Linked DNA regions of Homo sapiens. The protein of the gene in region 3 interacts with the protein of the main gene of each other region in a pairwise test. Each region holds a gene or a part of one and is shown on either strand. Other genes may lie near its edges.

Region 1 (4,528 bases), on a different chromosome or scaffold from region 3:
ACTTGACTATGAAGTACTGTATTCACTATCTTTTCTTTTTCAGTTTCTGAGCAAAAGATTATCGAAAGCCAGGCATAGTACCTGCAAGGACAGTGGCCATGCAGGAGCTAGAGACATTGTTTCCATTCAAGAGCTGTATCCTTTTCTGCTGAAGGTCTTTGCACCAAGCTACATGTTGTATTTTATAATTTGTCTGTAGTCGCATGTGTAATTTAAAAACAAATAATAAGGCCGGGCACGGTGGCTCAGGCCTGTAATCCCAGCACTTTTGGAGGCCGAGGCAAGCAGATCACTTGAGCCCAGGAATTTGTGACCAACCTGGGCAACATGGTGAAACCCTGTCTCTATCAAAAGTACAAATTTTTTTTTTTTTTTGAGTTGGAGTTTCGCTCTTTTTGCCCAGGCTGAAGTGCAATGGTGCAATCTCAGCTCACTGCAACCTCTGCCTCCCAATCTCAAGTGATTCTCCTGCCTCAGCCTCCTGAGTAGCTGGGATTACAGGTGCACACCACCACACCTGGATAATTTTGTATTTTTTTTGGTAGAGACAGGGTTTCACCATGTTGGCCAGCTGGTCTCGAACTCCTGACCTCAGGTGATCCGCCTGCCTAGGCCTCCCAAAGTCCTGGGATTACAGGCGTGAGTCACCGTGCCCGGCCAAAGTACAAATTAAAAAATAATAATAATAAGCTGGGTGTGGTGATGTACGCCTGTAGATCCAGCTAGTTGGTAGGCTGAGGTGAGAAAATCTCTTGAACCTGGGATGTGGAAGTTGCAGTAATCTGAGATCAGGCCACTGCACTCCATCCTGGACGACGAGGAAACCCCATCTCAATAATAATAATAGTAAAAATTGCCTAATATTGAGATTTCTTCTAGCAATCAGCCCTTGCCTTATATGAAAGTTTATTATTATTATTATTATTTTTTTTTTTTGAGATGGAGTCTCGCTGTGTCGCCCATGCTGGAGTGCAGTGGTGTGATCTCAGCTCACTGCAAGCTCCGTCTCCTGGGTTCATGCCATTCTCCTGCCTCAGCCTCCCGAGTAGCTGGGACTACAGGCGCCCGGCTAATTTTTTGTATTTTTTTTAGTAGAGACGGGGTTTCACTGTGTTAGCCAGGATGGTCTCTGTCTCCTGATCTCGTGATCCGCCCATCTCGGCCTCCCAAAGTGCTGGGATTACAGGCATGAGCTACCGTGCCCAGCCATTATTGTTTTTCTTAACCAGTGTTCTTAGAATTGAAGTGGAAGAAGAAGAGGAAATCCTCTTGAACTCTTACACCACACCTTCAAAGGTAAGTAAACAGTGTTTGGACATTGCATTTTACAAGTAACATTTTAAAATAGTTTCACAACATTTGAAGATCTGAGGGAAAAAATCAACCACTCTCATGCATTTCCTACTATATTTCCACTTATACATCTTCCTTTCTGATCATATGTCTAAATGTTTTACATAATGGCAGTCCTTATAAACATATAGTTATCCTGCTTTTCTCAGCACAACATAAAACATTTCTATAAACATAATTTCTCCATAATTGCCCTTTTTGAATAGTTTCATAGTTTTATACTATAATTGAATAATTCAGTTCTGTGTTGGATCCCAGTGTGAAAGGTCAAGTAGGGTAGTGGAAAAGCATTGCCTTCAAAGTCTGAGTCAGAAGACCTAGGTGACCTGGAGTGAGTTGTTTTATCTCTCTGAGACAGTTTCCTTATCCATAATATCAGGATTCATTCATTCAGTTATCCAGCAACAACTATGTGGCCAGGCGCAGTGGCTCATGCCTGTAATCCCAGCACTTTGGGAGGCTGAGGCAGGCGGATCACGAGGTCAGGAGATCGAGACCATCCTGGTTAACATGGTGAAACTCTGTCTCTACCATAAATACAAAAAAAGAAATTAGCCGGGCGTGGTGGTGGGCGCCTGTAGTCCCAGCTACTTGGGAGGCTGAGGCAGGAGAATGGCGGGAACCTGGGAGGCAGAGCTTGCAGTGAGCCGAGATCGCGCTACTGCACTCCAGCCTGGGCGACAGAGCGAGACTCCGTCTCAAAAAAAAAAAAAAAAACAACAACAACAACTATGTACTGCACTAGACATTGAGTAAACAATGGTGAATGAAACAGACATGGATGGGCTCTGCCCTCAAGAAGCTGACAGCCAGTGCACAATATCCCCCATCTTGGAGGGCTTGAAGAGGAAATAAATAGGTAAAGTATCAGGCCCTATGCAATGTATTCAGTAATGGTAACTATTCTTTATACTAACTAAATAAGTTTGTAGACATTCATAAACATGGAGTGAGCCTTAATTATTCAAAGTAAACTACATCATAAGAAAGAGGTAATTTACATTGCCCTATGCAATGTATTCAGTAATAGTAATTATTCTTTTTTGTTGTTGTTGTTGTTGTTTTGAGATGGAGTTTTCCTCTTGTTGCCCAGGCTGGAGTGCAATGGCACGATCTCGGGTCACTGCAACCTCCGCCTCCCGGGTTCAAGCAATTCTGCCTCAGCCTCCTGAGTAGCTGGGATTACAGGCATGCGCCACTACGGCCAGCTAATTTTTGTATTTTTAGTAGAGACGGGGTTTCACCATGTCAGCCAGGCTGGTCTCGTACTCCTCACCTGCGGTGATCCACCTGCCTCGGCCTCCAAAGTGCTGGGATTACAGATGTGAGCCACCGTGCCCAGCCCAGTAATTATTCTTTATACTAACTAAATAAATTTGTAGAAATTCATAAACATGGAGGGAGCCTTAATTATTCAAAGTAAATTACATCATAAGAAAGAAGGTAAGGGCTGGGTGCAGTGGCTCATGCCTGTAATCCCAGCACTCCGGGAGACCAAGGCAGGAGGATCAGTGACCAGAGATCATGCCGCTGCTCTACAGCCTGGATGACAAAGTGAGACCCTGTCTCAGGAAGAAAGAAGGTAAATAGTTTAGATATGCCTGTGGAGAGTAAGAGGGCCAAAAATGTGCCCCATGAAGTTGCTAACACAAAACCAGGTGCATATAATATTAAAAGAAATAATTAGGTGTTTGTTAGAGTTTCTTAAAATTGGAGAGACTATAACTCATTTGATTTTCCTCCTAAAGTGGTTTTCTGAGTCCATATCCCAGTGAAGGACACCTCCGTTCTTCCATTGACTCAGGCCAAGAACCTTGGAGACCTCCTTAAATCCTTTTTCTCTCACACCCCACATCCAACTTAGCTACCAGTCCTGTCATCCCTCTCCAGGATCTGGCCACCTCTCACCATTTCCACTGCTACCACCAGGTCCACAGCATCATTGTCTCCTGAATGATTGGGACAGCCTCCTAACTAGTCCATTGGCTTCTTTCTGCCATATCCACCTCTAACCACCTCTCCACCCAGCAGCCAGAGTGCTCCTTTCCAGCAAAAGGTCAGGTTTTCTTGCTCACATCTCTCCCACTGGCTTTTCGTCTTTCCTCCTGATATGCAAAGTTTGAACCAGCATATGTGAAGTTCTGTAGGAGCTGGCCCCCTCCTCCTTCTGTCCTCTTTCCCTGCTCCCCTTTGCTCTCTGCTTCTGCCGTGCCAAATATGGGTTCATTTCCTATGTCTCCTTGTCAGGGAACAAGCCTGCCTAAAAGAACAAAGCCCTTCTTCTGTTTTATTTTCTTGCTTTATTTTTCTCCTTATTATTCTCTTGCTTTATTACCACCAAACATGTTATATACTTACTTTTTTGTTTTAGTCGGCCTTCCCTCCATTAGATGGAAGCTCCTTGAGAATAGAGACTTTGTTTTTACTTGCTGCTGTTTTCCCAGCACCCTGGCATGTTAATAGTTGTTGAAAGATCTCTGAATAAGGGAGTGTGGTTGGCTCTCTCAATTGCAATACCAATGGGACCACCACGGTTTTATCTGGTTAACAGCTTCACAGATCCAGAATTTTATGTAATTTGTCTGTGTATCCAGAATTGATCATATTCCGGAGTCTGACTCATGGTAACCCAGCTGTCAGTAGACTGATGCGTAAGCCAGGTGCAAATTTGTTTACTTTACTATTGAAGTAGATACCCTTCCAATGACTGAAATCCCATATTTAGGATACCCCATTCCTGCTATGGAAATACTTAGGAGACTAAATTGTGAATCAAAGTTTGTGACTGTGAGGCCGAGTGCAGTGGCTCACACCTGTAATCCCAGCACTTCGGGAGGCTGAGGCAGGTGGATCACTTGAGGTCAGGAGTTCGAGACCAGCGAAACTCCATCTCTACTCAAAAAATTAGCTGGGCATGGTGGTGGTGCCTATAATCCCAGCCACTCAGGAGGCTGAGGCAGGAGAATCGCTTGAACCCGGGAGGTGGAAGTTGCAGTGAGCCAAGATTACACCACTGCCCTCCAGGCTGGATGACAGAACCAGACTCCGTCTGAAAAAAAAAAAAAAAAAAAAGTTTGTGACTGTGAATTCCACGCTAAATGAGTTGGAGTGAAATGTTGAGCAAACAATATGTCCAGGCTAGAGATACGTAAAATGCTTAGAACAGTACTTATCA
Region 2 (3,203 bases), on a different chromosome or scaffold from region 3:
TTTTCCTTCTTCCTTCAGAATGGTTCTTCGAGTTTGGCTTTGTGATCCCTAACTCCACAAATACCTGGCAGTCCTTGATAGAGGCAGCACCCGAGTCCCAGATGATGCCAGCAAGCGTCTTAACGTGAGTGAGCAGGTCTCAGGAAATTATGAAGTGTGTCTAGAAACAGGCATTCCAGGCAGGTGGGACTCCTGGTGCCATTCAGTGGGCAGAGAGCTCGGTTGAGAAATAGAGTAAAAGAGTATCCAAGGGTATCTAGGTTTCCAGGTTCCTGACCTTTTTCATATGAAAAAGACAGTATGATAGAGTAGAAAGAATAAAAAACTAAAAATAAAAATAAAACTTTAGATTAAACCAGATTTAAATTCCTGATTCACCCTGACTACCTGTGTCATCTTGGGCACTAATATACTTTATCTCTCTGAGCCTTAGTCTTTCATCTCTAAACACAGAAATTAATTCTGTCTTACAGAGGTGTAATGAAGATAAAATGTGATGACATGGAAGGAGACTGGCATTTAATATATATACCGAATCTATGTTAATTTGCTCCCATTCCTGACTACCGTACTTCCGGTATCTCTGTATTTTGTTTAGATCACCTTTAACAGAATCTGGCAAAGTCCTATTAATAATTCTGTTTTCGAGGATACTACTTGGTTACAGTTTTTTGGAGAATGGCTTACCATATTAATAGCTTTGGTTCCTGTTCCAAGAACAATTTGTTTGTGCTTTTTCCAAAAACACTGTCAATAACTTCCTACCTCCCATTGTCTGTGGGAAAGATGTTAGTCTCTCAAATGTTATAGTAATAGTACCTTCTAAAGAGTTAGCTGGGCGTAATGGCACACACCTGTAATCCCAGCTACTCAAGAAGCTGAGATAGGAGAATTGCTTGAACCCAGGAGGTGGAGGTTACAATGAGCCAAGATCATGTCACTGCATTCCAGCCTGGGTAGCAGACCAAGACTCTATTTCAAAAAAAAAAGAGTTAGTCCCACAGATAATTGTGTAATATTGGATCATCTCTTTCAACAGTTCCTTTATGAAAGCCATATTGAATTTGTTAAAAATTGAGGTTATTGACTTTAAGGTTTTTTGTTTTTGTTTTGGGTTTTGTTTATTTTATTTTTTTAAAAAACAGGGTCTTGCCATGTTGCCCAGGCTGGACTCCAACTCCTGGGCTCAAGTGATCTTCCTAGCTCAGCCTCCTAAGTAGGTGAGACTACAGGCATGTGCCACCATGCCTGTCTCTACTTTTTAAGTTTTTTTTTTTTTTTTTGAGACAGAGTCTCGCCCTGTCACCCAGGCTGGAGTGCAGTGGCGTGATCTCAGCTCACTGCCAGCTCCGCCTCCCAGGTTCAAGCAACTCTCCTGTCTCAGCCTCCCAAGTAGCTGGGATTACAGGCATACACCACCACACCGGTTAATTTTTTTTTTGTATTTTTAGTAGAGACAGGGTTTCACCATATTGGTCAAGCTGGTCTCGAACTCCTAACCTCGGGTGATCCACCCGCCTCAACCTCCCAAAGTGCTGGGATTACAGGCATGAGCCACCGTGCCCAGCCCCTTTTTAAAGTTTTTAATAGTTTTTTTAACAGCCAGGTGTGGTGACACTTTCCTATAATCCTAGCTACTTGGGAAGCTGAGGCGGGAGGATTGCTTGAGTCCAAGAGTTTGAGACTAGCTTGGGCAACATAGATTTTGTAAGAGGCTGGGCGCAGTGGCTCACACCTGTAATCCCAGCACTTTGGGAAGCCAAGTCGGGTGGATCACGAGGTCAGGAAATCGAGACCATCTTGGCTAACACAGTGAAACCCCATCTCTACTAAAAATACAAAAAATCAGCTGGGCATGGCGGCACACGCTTGTAGTCCCAGCTACTCGGGAGGCTGAGGCAGGAGATCACTTGAATCTGGGTGCCGGAGGTTGCAGTGAGCCGAGATCACGCCTCTGCACTCCACCCTGGGTGACAGGGCGAGACTCCACCTCAAAAAAAAAAAAAAATTGTAATAGAATTTTTTAAAGTTTTAATAGTTTTAAAAGTAGATTTTTTTTTTTTTTTTTTGATATGGAGTCTCGCTCTGTTGCCCAGGCTGGAGTGCAGTGGCAAGATCTCGGCTCACTGCAAGCTCCACCTCCCAGGTTCCCATCTTTCTCCTGCCTCAGCCTTCCGAGTAGCTGGGACTACAGGCACCCGCCACCACGCCCAGCTAATTTTTCGTATTTTTAGTAGAGACGGGGTTTCACCATGTTAGCCAGGATGGTCTCGATCTCCTGACCTCGTGATCCGCCCGCCTCGGCCTCCCAAAGTGCTGGGATTACAGACGTGAGCCACCGTGCCTGGCCTAAAAGTAGATTTTTTAATTACAGTAGTAGCTATTTTTATATCTTATCAGCCAGTCAGATTCTGAGTACCTTATTTACCTGTTTTTTGGGGTTTTTTTTTTTGTTTTTTTTTTTGAGACGGAGTCTCGCTCTGTCGCCCAGGCTGGAGTGCAGTAGCATGATCCCAGCTCACTGCAACCTCCGCCTCCCAGGTTCACGCCATTCTCCTGCCTCAGCCTCCTGAGTAGCTGAGACTACAGGCACCCGCCACCACGCCCGGCTATTTTTTTTTTTTTATATTTTTAGTACAGACGGGGTTTCACCATGTTAGCCAGGATGGTCTCGATCTCCTGACCTCATGATCTGCCCGCCTCAGCCTCCCAAAGTGCTGGGATTACAGGCATGAGCCACCATGCCCGGCCTATTTACCTGTTTTATAATTAATTACCAGCAGAAATGTATCTGCTGGTTATTAATTACCCTGGGAAAGTACAGAGTAGTTTAGGAAAGCAGGGGTTTTTTTTTTTTAGATTTTATTAAACTTCATTTGACTTCTTCTTCACGAGGCGTGATTTTTTGTTGCTGTTTTTTTTTGAGACGGTCTCGCTCTGTCTCAAACCTATCATAAGATGAAAATATCATAAGTCAAAAATGCATTTAATATCCCCATAAATCCACTATAAAGTTGAAAGATCATAAGTTGATTCATTATAAGTAGGGAACCAACTATACTTAACTTTTTATTTTTTATTTTTTTTTATTTTTTTTGAGACAGAGTCTCGCTCTGTCGCGGAGGCTGGAGTGCAGTGGCGTGATCTCGGCTCACTGCAAGCTCCGCCTCCCGGGTTCCCACCATTCTCCTGCCTCAGCCTCC
Region 3 (5,556 bases):
GAGGTTAATATGCAGACTGATGCTTGGGCCTGCAAGAATGGAGCAGCCTCCCAGAGGGCCTGTCTTTAACTCCAAGCCCAAATCATGTTCTCTTCCCTATGTCCCTCCCTGCATGCTTTGAAAGGTTATTGACTCCATCACTGACTTTGCGTAAGACACTTCCCCTCTCGGCCCAGGTTTCCTCATTTTTAAAAAGAATGGGTGATAAGTTGATATTTGTTGAAGCTGTTGATAGGTACCTATGATCTCACTATACTGTTTTCTCTACTTGTTATAATTTCCATAATAAAACATTTTTAAACATTTAAAATCAAAAGATTTTAACCTTTTTTAAAAAATAGAACCTTTTCTCCAACCAAAATGTTGCAACAGGCTGATATATAAATGAAATAAAGGTGAATCTACTCTTATTAAAGGGAAGCCAGACCCCCATCCTATAGCTAGGATGGCAGCACCCCTGTCAATATTTGGTCCTCAGAGTCTCAGGGAGAATGTGGATGACTTCAGCCACTTGCACGGCCCTGGATCTTGCAGCAGAGGAGGGTGTTTGGGAGGGGATGGCAAGGCTAGATAAGGACTCTTAGCAAGGTATGGTGGCTCATGCCTGTAATCCTAGCACTTTGGGAGGCTGAGGCAGGCGGATCATGAGGTCAGGAGTTCGAGACCAGCCTGGCCAATATGGTGAAACCCCGTCTCTACTAAAAATACAAAAATTAGCTGGGCCTGGTGGCGTGTACCTGTAGTCCCAGCTGCTCAAGAGGCTGAGGCAGGAGAATTGCTTGAAACCGGGAGGCGGAGGTTGCAGTAAGCCAAGATTGCACCACTGCACTCCAGCCTGGGCAACAAAGCAAGACTCCGTCTCAAAAAAAAAAAAAAAAAGACTCTGGACAACATAGTTCCCAGCCCAATTAGAGATTAGTGAAGTGAAGAGGGCAGTGAGGAGGATGTCAAAAGTTCCAGACTCAGGACAATACACAGAATGTGTGCTTTCCTATCTTCCTGACCATCTGTAGAATCAAGTATTTTGCACTCTGGGCAGCAAAAGACTAACTGGCCACCTGCTGGTTTGTCATTATTTGTCTTCTCACCTACTGTACCTAGCCAACTTTTCAGGTTCTCCCCGGAGACACTCTTTAGGTGTCATTTGTGAACTGGAGAAGTCCTCATTAGAACTATTTTTTTGTCCAGTGGCTGTAGCCTTGAAGGCTGGTGTGGCTTGGTCAGTCAGTTCTCTGGATCCTGTGAAGGGACCTGTCCAGCACAGGGAAACAGAGGGAGAAGACCCATCTCAGACAGCACCTGCTCTCCCCTTAACCCAGACTTAAACTCACAGGAACCTAGGAAGACCTTGCCAAGCAAGTACACAGGAAGGGCCTGAGGGGAAGGGCTACTAGTATGGGAGTTAGGAGAAGGAAGTCCTGTGAGTTTAAAGAAATCATGATGGGCTTTCTGGAGGAGGCTGGACCACACAGGACTTTGAGGACAGACACCAAGTTGGGTGTACATGGAACCCAGATCCTTGGTTCTTCTACCTAGCCCAGTGTTTTTGTCCCACGGTAGATGGGTCTGCCCCTCTCTCCCTGAATGCCCTGCCTGCTCTGAGGGGTGAATGCTCACAGAAGCCCAGAGGGCAGGTGGGAAGGCTAGCTTCAGGACTGAGAGCAGCCCCCTGTCTTCACTCCCTAACAACTCTCTGTCTTACTGCTTTCTCCCCACAGGACCCAGCCGCCGCCTCCATCTCTGACGGAGACTGTGACGCCCGGGAGGGTGAGTCAGTAGCCATGAATTACAAACCATCCCCGCTCCAAGTGAAGCTGGGTGAGTGTGTCTGGGGGGTGAGGGAGATGTGGGGAGTAGGCAAGATACTCTGGGCTGGGTCTACAATGAGGTGCCACAAATAAACCAGCTCAGCCTAGATGATTCCAAGACTCAAGCCTTCAAGTCATTGGCACTGCGAGGCACCTTGTCTCCTGCAGGCAAAGAGGGCAGTTACAGTTCTCTGCAGGAGCCTGAAACTCTAAGAGGCATCTCTGAAGCCAAGAACGTTCCAGGTATTCTGGGGCATAGCTGCAGGGGGAAAAGCATGGAACCCCAGAGAGAGGACTTGGAAGTCCCATCAAACACTGGATCAGGCTGAGAGGAAGCTGCCTTAGAAGTGGGATGTTACTTGTTATGTCTAAGGGATAGAAAGGAAAGAGAGTTCCAACCCTAGAAGCCGAGCCCCTCTCCCGATTACAATCTCAGCCCATCTAGAGATCTCTGGGCCCAGTTGGCACCTATCTGGGGGAGTTTTCCCTTCGTTTCTTAGAAAACCCAAATATCTCCCTTCCTTTCTGGGTCACATTTCCCTTGTGGCTTTGTCTCATGTCCATTCCAAAGTCAGTTTACTGTGCAGCCTGATCCTGTGAAGTCCCCTCGCTTCTGGCCACTGTCCACAGCTCCTACCACTATTGCCCTCCCTTCACCTCATGGGCTGTCCCTCTCCCTTCAGGGACCAAAGTTTCACTGTCTCATGGCTGCTGTATATAACACACTTTTATGAAAACTTTGGTTTCTTGAAGAGAAATTACAAAACAGGACATACAGGAAAGAATTTACAATTAAATATAGGTCATTACTATCCTTCCAAGTTCCTCTGCCATCAAGGCCACCCTCCTGTCCATCCTCCTCCTCAGGCTCCAGCTGCCCAACAATTACTGATGCCTCCTCAGTCCTAAGGGCCCTTTGCCTACAACTTTCTCCTTCCTTTCCACAGAGGCCTGTATTTTATTATTCAACTACTATTTTTTTTTCTTACCTTGCTTGCTTCTGTCCTTCCAGACCACATCCAGGGAGCCCCTCGAGCTGTTTTTCTAAACAAGAATAGTCCTCTCCTTGGAATTTGTTTCTATTCCTAGGACATCAGATTAAAACTGCAGCCAATTTTATTTATCAGGGGTGTTGGTTGTTGTTGTTGTTGTTGTTGTTGTTGTTTTGAGACAGAGTCTCTCTCTGTTGTCCAGGCTGGAGTGCAGTGGCATGATCTTGGCTCACTGCAACCTCCGCTTCCCTGGTTCAAGCGATTCTCCTGCCTCAGCCTCTCAAGTAGCTGGGATTATAGGCGCGCATCACCACGCCCAGCTAATTTTTGTATTTTTAGTAAAGATAGGCTTTCGCCATGTTGGCCAGGCTGGTCTGGAACTCCTGGTCTCAAGTGATCCGCCCACCTCGGCCTCCCAGAGTGCTGGGATTACAGGCATGAGCCACCATACCCAGCCTATTATTGTTTAATATCACAATACAAATATTTTAACAAGCATAACTTCTTTACTCTCCCCCATCACATTCTCCTCCTAAGAGGTAACCATTCCAAGCCTTTTCAGTTTTTGTAGTTTTACTTTGTATTTTAACATAAGTGGTATCATATTGTGCACATTTTCTGAAACTTGGCCTTCCCTCTTCCACCACCTAAATCTTGGAGCTCCTTCCAATGTCATCATATTGTGACTTCATTCTTTTAAATGGTTGTATAGTAGTCTTTAGTTTGGTTTTGCCAGTTTATTGTTTGCTTTTTTCCCACTATTTCAAACAATTTCAGCATGCTTTTAAAATAACATCTTTTTTTCTCCCCATTACATTACCATCAAAGCTCCTCATGAAAATTCACAGCATTGTCCCAGTTGCACCTAGTACCACCAGGAACTTTAAGGCAAATTGCACCCCCTAGAGGCCTGGAGTGGTAATGGCAGCTGCCACCTGCTGGAAAGAAGCTGGGAAAAAGCTGGAATCAGCTGAGCACTGGCAAAGAAAGAGGGTCAAAGAGTAGAAGACAGAGATTCAGAGACATGAGGTCAGGGGAAATTTCCAAGTGAGTCACAGTAGCTGTAAAGGTCCTTCCCATCCTTACCCTCTGGAGCATTTGGCTATTTTATGAGTCATTTTCCCTAGTGTCCCTCTCCACCTAACAGTTCCTTTTCCTAGATCTGGCCTTTACTTGAGATGAGTAGGGAAGAGTAGATGGGACTCCTCCAAGACCCAGGAAGCTACTTCTGGTAACAGTTGTCACATACCAGGCAGTGGACTGGGTCACCTGATGGCCAGCTCCATGAAGCTGGTAGGCTTTGGAACCTTGGAGAACTCAGACCTTGGCAAAGGAGTCAGGAGCACCACTCAGGCAGCGTAGCCAAATGGGCTCCCCCAGCCTTCTGCCCCTTACTTTGTAGCCCCATCCTGCACCTCCCACACCATAACCTTCAGTGGCTTCTTCTTCCTTCTGCGTTAATCCCAAACTCCTCTGTCTGGCATTCAAGTCCTTCATGTTCTGAGTTTGTAACCAGAGAGGGTCTTCGGCCCCTTAGCACAGGACCAGACTTATAATTAGTGACATGGATATTTGTTGAATAAGTGGCTGAATAAATGAATTTTACTTCTCTAACCTGACCTCTCTCTTCACCCCTCTATCCAGAGCCACACTTATGCTCACTTTTAAATGCATTTTTGCACACACTATCCCTCCTTCCTAGAATGTCCACCTCTCTCCAGGTCATGGTGTCACCTAAAGGAAGCCCTCTCTGACTGCGCCATCCTTCTGTGATTGTCTCTCCCCCGCCAGCCTTTCCCTGGCATCAAGTACACACTAACTACCCTAACATGGGAGTTGTGGTTCCTGAAAAACAGGGGGCAGCCTCCTCTTTTTGCCCCCCACTGTCTGCCTCAGGTTGTGCAGGGCCAGGTACTATCTCCACCAAGCAGCAGGGGCCTGGAGTTGGGATCCCTGCCTCAGTCCTTCTAGGAGCAAGTGGTTTCACAGTGGAGGCCCAGCCCAGGCTGCCCTGAGTAGTAAGACAGGGTGGCCTCAGGGGCAGGACACAGCTTCCTTCCCATGTTCTCCTGCAGAGAAGCAGCGGGAGCTGGCCCGGAAGGGCTCCCTGAAGAATGGCAGCATGGGTAGCCCTGTCAACCAGCAACCCAAGAAGAACAATGTCATGGCCCGAACAAGGTAGAGGCCCTCCCTACCCCACCTGGACCCTGCCAGCCAGGACCTATTTCTGCTGGTCCTGAGCCTCCCCCTCTTCCCTCCCTCCTCAGGCCCAGCTCCTCTCTGAGAGGAGACAGCCTTAACAGGATCCAAGGTGGGGAGGGAGGGAAGAAAGTGGTGGGACGGGGCCCAACCCAGTCCCTTGCCAGGTTTCTATGCTCCACTTTGCCACTCTAACTCCCGAAATTCTTCACCTAGGCTGGTCGTCCCCAATAAAGGCTACTCCTCACTTGACCAGAGCCCTGATGAGAAGCCACTGGTAGCCCTTGACACGGACAGGTGTGTATGGGGGCTTGGGGGTAGCTGGGCAGCCCAAAGGAACCTGTATAGCACAAGTGGGCTGTACAGGCCACACCTGCTATATTGTCAGAATTGGGATATTCTTCAGCCAGAATCTCTCCAAGGGTGAATTCTCCAGGGATGGGAATTTTTTTACACCAGGGACTGGGGGTTGAAGAGAGGTGGCAGAGAGAGGAAAGGGGGGCCTGCGTTGTCTGCTGTCATCCTGGGACAACTGATCCAATGGTTGTCCCTAATTG
Region 4 (4,528 bases), on a different chromosome or scaffold from region 3:
TATGCCCCTTTTCATTTCAGGTATGATGAGAAGAATAAGCAATTTGCAATATTAATCATCCAGCTGAGTAACCTTTCTGCTCTGTTGCAGCAACAAGACCAGAAAGTGTGAGTATGTAGCTGGACAGGTGTATTTCATACCCTAACCCTCTGGAGTTACCCCTGGGGGTCACTTTTCTGCCCTGTCCTGATCCAGTTATGGGCCTTGTCAAGGCACTGTGGGTTTGTACTGCATATGACTGTGATGCTGAATGTCGGTGCTGTGCATGTGAATACAGGCACAACGGCAAGCACACCAACTGTAAAGACAAGCACTCTCTAGATGACTGTGTGAATTCCTGCCCCATTACGTGCTGAGCACCTGCTGCATGCCAGCTCTAGGAATGGGGTGGTGAGCAGATCCTTCCTGGGCCCTACCCTCCTGGACTTTGAGCCTCATGGAGAAGAATGGTCACAGTCTGTTTTATCTTCTCCTAAGCTCAAGTGTTTCTTGCAGAGAGAGATAGGTCTTCTGTTTCCAAGAGTCAACACCAGTCACTGCTTCTCTTGGAGGGGTGTGACTGCGTGTTACCTTGATGCTGGTAGGATGCAAACACCTGCTCTGTCTGCCTGTGGGCTCCTCCCATGGTAGATGGGTTTATCCTTTATTGCACTCATCTGCCTCCAAGTTTTCTCTGATCGTAAGGCCTGGAGGGTGGCAACAGAAGCTTATGTGTCTGTGGTCTACACTCAGCCAGCCTGTGAGGGTGGCACATGTGGGAAGAAGAAAGGGCAGGAAGGCGGACAAAACGGAAGGAAGACAAGATGGGATGCTTGGGTCAATTTCAGTCTTCTGCCCACACAGACAGTGCCAGGCTGAATAGCCTCCTCCATAGCTCACTGGTACTCATGCAGGGGCATCTGTGGGATAATGCCTAGAAGTGAAGGGTCTGGACCAAAGGACAAATGCATCTGGAATTTTGTTCGATTTGTCAAAGTTCCTTCCAGTGTATAGGGGCCTGATTCCCCAGATTCCTCACTTCTACAAACTCTCATCCACTGTTGTTTGCTTAGGGATTTCAGCAGCTGTTTAGTCCAACATTTTAGCCCCAGACATGGGCTGACCCAAGATTTCCTGCGGTTCTGTCTCCCTCTAGGAATATCCGCGTGGCTGTCCTTCCTTGCTCTGAAAGCACAACCTGCCTGTTCCGGACCCGGCCTCTGGACGCCTCAGACACTCTAGTGTTCAATGAGGTGTTCTGGGTATCCATGTCCTATCCAGCCCTTCACCAGAAGACCTTAAGAGTCGATGTCTGTACCACCGACAGGAGCCATCTGGAAGAGTGCCTGGTAAGGGCCGTGTCTGGCTGGCTGGCTGGCTGGCTGGCTGGCTGGCTGGCTGGCTGGCTGACCGGCCTTCTGTGTTTATGGGGATTGGTCTACCCTGAGCTTCAGGAAGAAGGTTCGAAGGAGACGCAGGTTGTGCTATCAATCAGGCTCATCTTGGATTCTAGGCAGCGAGGCTTCCACAGGTGAATGTTGTTCTCAGACTTAGGGTGGGAGGGAAGGAGCTCTTTCACAAGAGGAAGAGTAATGGACCTGAAAGTGCCTTTTAAAACTGCCAGAACCTGGAAAAAGCCACATACTGCAGCTTTACTATACAGCATGAGAGATTAGATAAGAAGCACAGACTATGGCTGTGTGGTGGCTTATATCTGTAATCCCAACCCTTTGGGAGGCCAAGGCCAGAGGATCACTCAAGTGCAGGAGTTCGAAAGCAGCCTGGGCAACACAGCAAGACCCCATCTCTACAAAAAATAAAATTAGCCAGGCATAGTGGTGCATGCTTGTAGTCCTAGCTACTCTGGAGGTTGAGATGGGAGGATCCCTTGAGCTGCAATGAGCTGATCATGCCGCAGCATTCTGGCCTGGGCAACAGCAGAACCCTGTGTCAAAAAAAAAAAAAAAAAAAGCACAGAGTAATGAAAGCAAACACATAGGCATTCACATCCCACCTTTACCACTTGCTGTATAGCTGGATGACCTTGGGCAAGGTACTTAACATCTCTGATCCTCATTTTTCTTATCCCTAAAATGCAAATGATAATGCCTCCATCATGCCCACTGGAAGAATCTTTATAAGGATTGAGATAGCACCCGTAAAACACCTATTCAAGTGTCTGATCCACAGTGGGTTCTCGTTTAGTGGGGCCATTGCCAGCCTCCTCCCTGAAACTGACCTTCTCCGGCTTCCATCTCTCACTGCATTGGCAGGAGTCAGGACTGGGGATGAAGTAGCCCAAGTACATTTTGTCCTAAGAGACAGGCAGACCCAAGTGCAGACAGATACTCAGCTTTCCCATCTGTAGAAGGGGGATTTATATAATAGCTAACTCGGGCTTGTGATGTACAAGTGAATTAGAAGAAGTAAAGGGCTTTGTTAACCCTGATGCCATTTAGTGTTAGAATATTTTAATGATAACTCAACTGTGGGCACAAAGGAGCCCAAGTGTGGGCATTATACCTAGAAGGTCGCTCCACTCATGCTCAGATCTGTACTGGGAGCTTGTTGTGTCCCCACCCCTGTGTCTGGGGCTGGGGATTCAATGGGGAACCAAACAGACAAGGTGCCAGCATTGATGGCTAAGATGTAAACAAACTGTGAGGAGGGCCGTGTTGGAAATGGATGGGTTGAAGTGATGGAGGAAAATGTGGGGTATGTGCAAAGGGGAAAAACAAGATGTATACACCTCTCCGAGCCTCTCCTGCCTCCATTTCTGGAAGCTGGAATGTAGAGCCTCTCACTGCCTTCTTGGAGGGCTCGCCCCTTTCTCCTGCTGTAAATCACAGACCTTTGCCCAGAGAAGGGAATCTCTTTGCTCTCCATCCTTGCCTTGATCTGCATGCGCTATAAAACCCTTCTCTATCATGGCATTGTGGGGCCACATCCTTGGATTGTGGCCTGGGGCTGTCACCAGCCTTGCCCTTCCAGCTGTGTCTCCTCACAGTCTTCAATTCTTAGTCTCAGTTCCCTTATCTGTAAAATCTGGCTCATACTGCCTTCCTGGAGGTGGTTCTCTGAAGACTAACTAAGGCGCTGAAGCAGCGCTTCAAACTGTGCCATGCACACAAGTTACCTGGAGCTCTGGCTAAATGCAGATTCTGATTCAGCAAGTCTGGAGCAGAACCTGAGATTCTGCATTTCTAATAAGCTCCCAGGTGAGGCCAATGCTGCTGGTTCCTGGATCACACTTTGGGTAGCAAGAATGTAGAGCAGCAAAGTGTTTGCAGTTTGTGCTCACTGGATATCGGTTCCCATCTCTCCTTCTTAGCTGGGTACAACACAGCATCACTGCTATTGATGTTGTTACTGACAATAATGCAGTAGTTAATACCAGTAGGTTGCAGTTTATATGGCAGGCACTGAGTTAAGCTCTTTACATGCATTATCTGTTTTTTTTATTTTAGACTGAGTCCTGCTCTCAGTCTCTGGAGTGCAGTGGCGTGATCTTGGCTCACTGAAACCTTCACCTCCTAGATTCAAGCAATTCTCCTGCCTTAGACTCCAGAGTAGCTGGGACTACAAGCGCCCACCACCACACCCGGCTAATTTTTGTATTTTTAGTAGAGGCGGGGTTTTGCCATGTTGGCCAGGCTGATCTTGAACTCCTGACCTCAAGTGATCCGCCTGTCTCCACCTCCCAAAGTTCTGGGATTACAGGTGTGAGCCACCACCCCAGCCCATTATCTCTATTGATCCTCACTCCAACCTTGCAAAATAGGTAGCGTATTCCAGTGGAGAAACTGAGGCACAAAGAGGTGAAAGACCTTTCCTGTCACAGTTAGGAAAGTGGCAGAAGCCGTATTTGAACCCCAGCAGGTCTCCCTCTGAAGTCCACACACGTCAGCGCCTCTGTGTTGTCTCTTTGCCAGCACAGGGCTCCCTGGAGCCCAGAGATGGGGGTGGTGACTTGAAGGGGTTGGCAAGCCTGGGCTCCTCCAGCGAAGCATTCCCTTGGCCCTGGGCATTCCTAAGCGAGAAGAGGCTCAATCCTATTTTCTTCTCCTAATTGGATGCCTTTTATTCCTCCTTCCTAATTGAAGTCTGGTCATTGCTGGTTGCCATGGCAGCAGCCAAAGCGCTCATCTCACTGTGGCTTGTCTCTGCCTGCGGCCAATGGGAAACCTCCTTTCCCATATACGGTGGGGACATGGAGTGTCAGGCTGTCGTATTCTGGTGGCTGGAGGAGGAGAGGAAGTGAGATGGGAGGAAAAAGGCCTGTCCTCTCCCACGCAGAGACTCCGGACAGCAGGATGTGTGGAATCCCCAGTCTGTTTTCAGCCAGGCAGCAACAGCATCTGTACTGAGTTGAGTCTATGTGTCTACCAGTGGGCTAAGAACTTCATGTGCAGTATCTCATTTAATCTTCGTGATGGCCCCAGGAAGATAAGGGATCAAGGCCCAGAAAGGCTAAGTAAGCTGCCAGGTCATCCAAGGAGAAAATGGCAAAGCCTGGATTTGAACAGAGACTCCAGCTTCCTTATGTGTA

The links.
Region 1: the proteins of FAM219A (region 3) and POLA2 interact in a two-hybrid assay, tested with the Homo sapiens proteins (one large-scale study listed by BioGRID and IntAct).
Region 2: the proteins of FAM219A (region 3) and PDE6D interact in a two-hybrid assay, tested with the Homo sapiens proteins (one large-scale study listed by BioGRID and IntAct).
Region 4: the proteins of FAM219A (region 3) and WWC1 interact in a two-hybrid assay, tested with the Homo sapiens proteins (one large-scale study listed by IntAct).

The regions. Positions count from the first base shown.
Region 1 is NC_000011.10:65,267,434-65,271,961, forward strand, and holds part of POLA2 (DNA polymerase alpha subunit B), read left to right. Parts: intron 1-43; coding exon 44-135; intron 136-1,238; coding exon 1,239-1,296; intron 1,297-4,528. UniProt on the Homo sapiens protein: Accessory subunit of the DNA polymerase alpha complex (also known as the alpha DNA polymerase-primase complex) which plays an essential role in the initiation of DNA synthesis.
Region 2 is NC_000002.12:231,734,108-231,737,310, reverse strand, and holds part of PDE6D (retinal rod rhodopsin-sensitive cGMP 3',5'-cyclic phosphodiesterase subunit delta), read left to right. Parts: intron 1-18; coding exon 19-124; intron 125-3,203. UniProt on the Homo sapiens protein: Promotes the release of prenylated target proteins from cellular membranes. Modulates the activity of prenylated or palmitoylated Ras family members by regulating their subcellular location.
Region 3 is NC_000009.12:34,402,127-34,407,682, reverse strand, and holds part of FAM219A (protein FAM219A), read left to right. Parts: intron 1-1,718; coding exon 1,719-1,818; intron 1,819-4,875; coding exon 4,876-4,978; intron 4,979-5,215; coding exon 5,216-5,296; intron 5,297-5,556.
Region 4 is NC_000005.10:168,430,117-168,434,644, forward strand, and holds part of WWC1 (protein KIBRA), read left to right. Parts: intron 1-20; coding exon 21-107; intron 108-1,135; coding exon 1,136-1,328; intron 1,329-4,528. UniProt on the Homo sapiens protein: Regulator of the Hippo signaling pathway, also known as the Salvador-Warts-Hippo (SWH) pathway.